2 linked regions of the Homo sapiens genome follow. The protein of the gene in region 2 interacts with the protein of the main gene of each other region in a pairwise test. Each region holds a gene or a part of one and is shown on either strand. Other genes may lie near its edges.

What was found.
Region 1: the proteins of TRAPPC6B (region 2) and BMP2K interact in a two-hybrid assay, tested with the Homo sapiens proteins (one large-scale study listed by IntAct).

The regions. Positions count from the first base shown.
Region 1 is NC_000004.12:78,870,350-78,873,849, reverse strand, and holds part of BMP2K (BMP-2-inducible protein kinase), read right to left. Parts: intron 3,068-3,500; coding exon 2,790-3,067; intron 2,001-2,789; coding exon 1,902-2,000; intron 1,237-1,901; coding exon 1,052-1,236; intron 1-1,051. UniProt on the Homo sapiens protein: May be involved in osteoblast differentiation.
Region 2 is NC_000014.9:39,160,334-39,163,833, reverse strand, and holds part of TRAPPC6B (trafficking protein particle complex subunit 6B), read left to right. Parts: intron 1-3,500. UniProt on the Homo sapiens protein: Component of a transport protein particle (TRAPP) complex that may function in specific stages of inter-organelle traffic.

The DNA.
Region 1 (3,500 bases), on a different chromosome or scaffold from region 2:
TAGACAAAATTGTCCTAATTCATCCACCCCAATTCTTACTTTAGAAAAGTAGTTCAAGAAATCCATTCGTTTCTGTCTCCCTCTCTACCATACCCGCCCCACCATCTGTCTCTTGCACATGTGCACACACATGCATGCATGCATACACACACACACACACACACACACACACACACACACACACACACACAGAGGTTGGGAGGCATTCTATAGCAAACTGCATACTTTAGCTCTCTTTTGAGATGCAGTGTACAAGTATGCTACTGATGCTGCTGTTTCTCCTGCTCAACTCTGAGCCAAAGCTTATAGACACCTTTTCTCAGCTAATGTTTCAAATCCTTAAACAGCATTGTATGAGAACTTCAGTGTTCATGTAACAGAAGTCTAACAGCTCCTACCTCCTAGGTATCTAAAAACATTAGGAGGCATTGATGATGATTCTTAGTTACAAGATGCTAAAGCACGTGCCATTTTGTATAAGTTTAAGAAATTTTGTACCAAAGTTATTTAATTTATAACGCTACTAACCAATATGTCTCAATAGCCAAAATATACTATTACCAACTATGTTACGGTAACAGTATGTATACTATATATCATCTTAAAATACATATATGTAAAAATGTTTATACCTATTTAAATTAAATTATACAACCTTTATGAGTAAACAGTAAAATTAATCAAAGGTAATAACATGTAAATAGAGAAAGTCTACAAGGATTTTTTTTTAACTGCTGAAGTCACTTGTTAGGGTGTTGTTTATACTTACATTACCAAAAATGCCTTTACATACAAGCCAATAATATCCTTAGCCCTAAATGCTGTTAGATGTTGCTACACCTTACCTACAAATAGCAGTTAGCAGAATTAACTGAGGAAACGGAAGGATGGGGATGCCAAGGGACCAGAAGACAGGACTAGGAAGAGAGAATGGGTGGCTCTACAGAAAGATAAATTCTAAACTAATTTAAGAGAACTTAATGACCGACCATTCAACGATGACTTCCACTTCCACAATAATTTCCTTTGCTTTCACTGGAAAAATACTTGCCTATTGGCACTATAGGAGGAGTCCATTATGGTTCCAACCTGAGCTGGAAGTGATGAAGTGTAGGAAACTAAGGCTGGTGAGAACTCTTGAGGGGAGGTAAGATATTCAGGTGATGCCTGTTGTTGAGACGGCTGATGTTGAGCTAGCATCTGCTGTTGAAAGAAAGCCTGCTGATACTGCGGCATCTGAAAAAAGAAATGATATTATACAAAACAATGCTCCAGTCCTAAAGCACTGTCAGCACTGCATCTATTTACTATGTTCCTTCCTTTCACATTGGTGACAAAATCAGAAACGTAAAAAACAATCATCTACAGAAGCAGCTCTATTACTAGAAAACTACAGCAAGATGAAATAAATCTTTTTAAAAAGTTGTAAAGGTAGGCTCACTTGGCCAGAATCAAAAATCCTCTTTTAAGTATTTTAAGAAAAAGAGTAGCTTAAAGTCACTAATATAGTGGTTGCTGTTAAAAAAAAAAAAAAAAAAAAAAAAAAGGTCAAATTATTCTCTGAAGAAAATATACTCTCCCTTTGGGTTTCATTTTTTTACTCAATAGATATGTGCTGAATGAAAGAGACATGTGACGAAAGACTATAGGTAAGACATCATTTCCCTTATATAATGACATAAGAGAAGTACGTTATCGGTCAATTACTATGTGCCATATTCAGGTGCCATAGTTCAGTGCAATTTAAAGCTGCTTGAGAATATATGACTGGCTTTGATAAAATACATGTCAATTAACTTACTTGATTTTGAATTACTAAATTCTGAATAATATGATTCATACTGTGAATTCCAACACCATAATGTATACTCAGAGAAATCTCTAGAAATTATTTAAGTTACCATTGTAGGATACTGTGATGCAGAAGGTTGTGGTTGATATACCGAATGCATTAAAAATTGTTGTTGAAGCATCTGTTGCTGCTGTGTTGCATGTTGATACTACAACGAGAAAATCAAATTAATAAATGTTATGCCTTTTTTGTGTCAGAGCCCTTTTTTAAAGTATTGATCTTACCATAATGATTTGAGAAATCAGTAGTCCAAACATCAATACAAAATAGCTATACTCTAAATTACTATAATTTATTAATAAATATGCTTATCAGAACTGGTTTCAAAATTATCAACAATTAGATTCAATTAAAACCATTTTTAGCACAATTTAAGGATGTTTAGAAGAAAGCTACCAAAACACATTTACTACCTTTTCCTAGAAGATAAAGACACCTGAGTGACTTCTAACCAAGCCCCATTACACTAAATCTCCCCTTCAGTGGTGTCTTCTGGGCATCCCATGGTACCACCTACTTACTACCCTCCACTCTGGATCTATCAACCAAAACCAGGAGGGTGACAAAAATCTAAGACAATGTTACTTCTGAAAAGCCTAATATCACCTTTCCAACAATAGCATTATTAGTCTGTGAACTCAAAACGTAACCTCAGATAATATTCATTATAAACTGCAGTGCTTATTTGTGAATACTAAATGTTTCAGATGAACATTCTTTTCTTCATAAGGCCACAATGCAACCTATTTTACAGTATTCTTAAGTATTTCACTGATTGCAAATTAAATACGTATTCTTTCATAATTAGAAAATTGGGGAAAGTGTTTACTCAAATCTAGAGTTCAAGGTGCCCATGATACAAAAAGGAATTCACTGATATTCAATTTGCTGCATCAATTTCACACTACTTCCATATCTAAAGAAACAAAAAAATTACCTGCTGCATATAAGCATCTTGAAGTAGGTGGTGGTGGTGGTGGTGGTGGTGCTGCTGCTGCTGCTGCTGCTGCTGCTGTTGCTGTTGCTGCTGCTGCTGTTGCTGTTGCTGCTGCTGCTGCTGCTGCTGCTGGTGAGGATGACGATGCTGTAAATGGAGTTGCTGTAATCTCCAATCTCCCTGCTGTAGTTGCTGGAGTACTCTATGCTGCTGTGGCGGCTGCTGAGGAGGTCCCTGACCCAATAAAATTTCAGGGCCATTTCCAGGTCTTAGTGCCCCTAAAGACAGGTCCAAACACTTACATTAACATACTAATGATTTCAATTAAAAAGCTGGATTTCAACATGCTCATTTCAATAATAATTTAACTAAGGCATTTATATCCTTATTTATAACACAAAAACTTCCATATGCATAGAGTTTATAGGGATTTACTTTAATTGTAAGTACCGAAGAAGCTTAATTTTGTCGTCTACAACTCTGAACAAGTCAACATCTTAGAAACACTTCATGTTTCATACTTCGGCTCTCCATGAACACAACATCCATGTTAGTTTGTTCTACACTGCTCAACAATATCATGTACTATCATGAGTATGTATTAGTACCAATATAATTCTCTGTCTAGAATGCCACTTTCCACCTAGTGAAATTCTTATTCTTTAAAGTTTAGCTCAAACCTCTCTTCCTTATTCCTTCATCTAGCACTTC
Region 2 (3,500 bases):
GGTCCTGTGGGACCACTAGATGTCTATGCCCAATAAAGTCTGTACTAGAAACGCAGATTTAATAGTCACAGCACCATAAGCAGAGTGCATGGTTCCTTAGAAGAAAGTTTAGCAAATAATAAGCCCTATGGTTTCCTTAGTGGGAGACAAACAGCCTTCAGAATATACAAAAATCCCTGCCTTTTTGGAGCTTTATTTTAGCAGAGAGGGGAACAAGGGGCACATGGGCAATATAAAATAGTAAAATGTATGGTATATTAAATGGTGAAAGAAGTTCTGTGGAGACAGATTAAGCAAGGAAGTGGGACTGAGTATCAAAATCAATTTTTAGAAGGTTTGTTAAAGCTGATTAGCGGCCCCATACCCAGAGTTTCTGATTAAGTAAATTGGGAGTGGGACTAGAGAATTTGCAAGTTCCCATGTGATGCTGATGTTGCTGGTCTTTTTTTTTTTTTTTTTTCTGGTGATGAAGTCTCGCCCTGTCACCCAGACTGGAGTGCAGTGGCATGATCTCGGCTCGCTGCAATCTCTGCCTCCTGGGTTCAAGCGTTTCTCCTGCCTCAGCCTCTTGAGTAGCTGGGACTACAGGTATGTGCCACCATGCCCGGCTAATTTTTTGTATTTTTAGTAGAGATGAGGTTTCACTGTGTTAGCCAGGATGATCTCGATCTCCTGACTTCGTGATCCGCCCACCTCAGCCTTCCAAATGCTGGGATTACAGATGTGAGCCACCACACCCAGCCAACACATTTTTAAAATCACTAGGATAGAGAGTTGCCAAAGGGGTATGATGTTGCACTTTTAAAGAAGATGGTTAAAATGGGCCTAAGATGGTGACATGAGAGTAGACTCAAAGGAAGTGAGGGAGTTGGTTGTGTGACTATCTGGAGGAAGAGTTGATGCAAAAGCCCCTGGAATGTGCCTGGCATGTTTAAGGGACGGGGCAGAGTGCATCTGCAGAAGGTTGAAGCCAGAGAGGTATGGGGTCTGGATTGTAGAGGACAGTCCATCAGTCATCCATAGGATTTGGATGTGTTCAGCATAGAGGTACTATTTCAAGCCTTAAGATTGAATGAGATTGTCAAAGAAAGAGCAAAGCAATCTCATGATTTAAGGCAAAGTGTGATAATCAGCTAAGACACTGAGAACTGGGAAGCCTGGATGATTCTGAGACATTTTGAAGCAAGGAACAATAGAACTTAGAGCAGAAAGCAAATGACTCAGGGAAAAACATCAAAGGTGATACCAGGTTTTATAACCTAGGAGAGAAGAATGATTGAAATTGGGATAAAAGGGAGACGAGGAGTAATTAGGAAGAGGATTTGATTTCTGAAAATCAATTATAAGCAGTAGTTCCCTGTTTATCCTGTTGCCTTGTGCCAGGTGCAGTGGCTCACACCTGTAGTCCCACAGCTTTGGGAGGCCAAGCCAGGAGGATATCTTGAGGTCAGGACTTTGAGACCAGCCTGGGTAACAGAGTGAGATCCCATCTCTTAAAAAAAAAAAAAATAGCCAGGCATGGTGATGTGCCTGTAGTCCTAGCTACTTGGGAGACTGAGGTGGGAGGATTGCTTGAACCCAGGAATTTAAAGCTTCAATGAACCATGATCTCGCCAGTGCACTGCAGCCTGGGCGACAGAGCAAGACTTGTCAAATAAATAAGTAAATAGCAGTTTGGTCTTTTGTTGGAGGAACGTCTATTCTTAGCTTGGACACTGCGGTTTTTCCTTGGGCAGCAGAAGCAATGTGGCGATTGAAGAAGTGACCTAAAACTTTGATGTTAGGTAGAAGCAGATGGCCCAAGCCAAGACAAGTGCTTGTAAATCCACTGGTGGGAGCCCCTCCTCCTAACAGCAGGTTATTAACGCTGCCAGAAAAAAAGTGTCCCCTCTACCGGTCTGGTGAAGAAACCTCATCGCTACGGGCCTGGGACTGTGGCACTTCTAGAGATTCTCGTTACCAGAAATTGACCTAGCTTCTCATCTGGAAGCTGCCTTTCTAGAGGTTGGTGAGAGAGATCACCCAGGATTTCAAAACCAACTTTAGGTTTCAGAGCACAGTCATTGGGGTGCTGCAGGAGGCTAGTGAAGTGTACCTGGAGGCTAGTGAAGTGTACCTGGTGGGTTGGTTTGAAGATGCTAATTTGTGTGCCATCTACGGTAAGAGAGTTGGCTCTCATGCCCAAAGACATCCAGTTGGCTCGCCAGACACGGAGTGAGCGAGCTTAAGTGAAGGCAGATTTTAAGGCATTTTATATGAATTCTGTAAAATACTTTGGTTTAATTTGTGACTTTTTGGGGAGAAATTATTTATAATATGTTGCATTTGTGCTTAAGTCATTCCGTCTTTTGGGATGAATGTGAAAAGTGACTGTTCATAGACCTCAGTGACGTAAGCACTGTTGCTCAGGAGTGACAAGTTGCTAATACGCAGAAGGGATGGGTGACATTTTTTCATTCTCATGACGCATGTTTCTGTAAGTTAATGACTTGTTAGGTAGCTATTAAGGAACTAGAGTTGATAAATAAATGTGTATAGGTTCCTTTTGCAATATAACTGGTTATTACTTGATCCAAGTGTTTAACATTTGGAGCTAAGTCTGACCATACATTACTGTGATAGAATGTGGGCCTTTTCAAGGGTGAAGATACAAGCCTTAACCACAGTATAACTTGCAGTTTCCTTAAACAAACAAAGAAATAAAAACCTAGCATGGAGTACATTATGTGCATTTATAATAGCTATTTTAAATATTGTAGTGTCAACATTCAAAAATTAATTCTTTTACATTCGCAAATGGTGGGGAGTCTTGTCATTAAGGTGTGTATAACTTAGAATCCACTTGGTTTTCTCCTAACTGGACTGCATTTGTTTTCATAGTAGTAAAATGTTATGTGTATTACACCTTGCATAAGTCCTCATTCTACTACGTGTTAACTAACCCTCTAGATGATAATGCAGATGCTAACTGTGGGATTTTATTTATAAGAACTCTAGAATAAATACCAGTTATTCCTACCAACATCGGCTGTTACTAATATTCTGAAGTAGTTAGTGCAACTTTTCATTGTGTTGTGGTTGGTCTCCTAAGTAGGTTGGATTTTTCTCCTCTTCTAAGAGAAAACAATAGTGAAATTATTTTCTTTCTCTTTTCTCTCTGTTTCTGTCTCTTTCTCTCTCTCTTTCTCCCTTCCCTTCCCTTCCCTCCCCTCCCCTCCCCTCTTCTTTTCTTTTCTTTCTCTTCTCTTCTCTTTTCTTTCTTTCATGGGGTCCCTTGCTCAACCTGTTGCCCAGGCTGGAGTGCAATGACATGATCATGGCTCAGTGCAGCCTCAACTTCCTGGACTCAAGCAATCCACCTGCATCAGCCTCCAAAATGGCACATGCTACCATGCCCAGCTATTTTATTTTTACTTTTAGTACAGATGTGGTCTTGCTATGTTGCCCAGGCTGGTCTTGAGCCATTGAGCTCAAGTGATCCTCCTGCTTTGGCCTCCTAA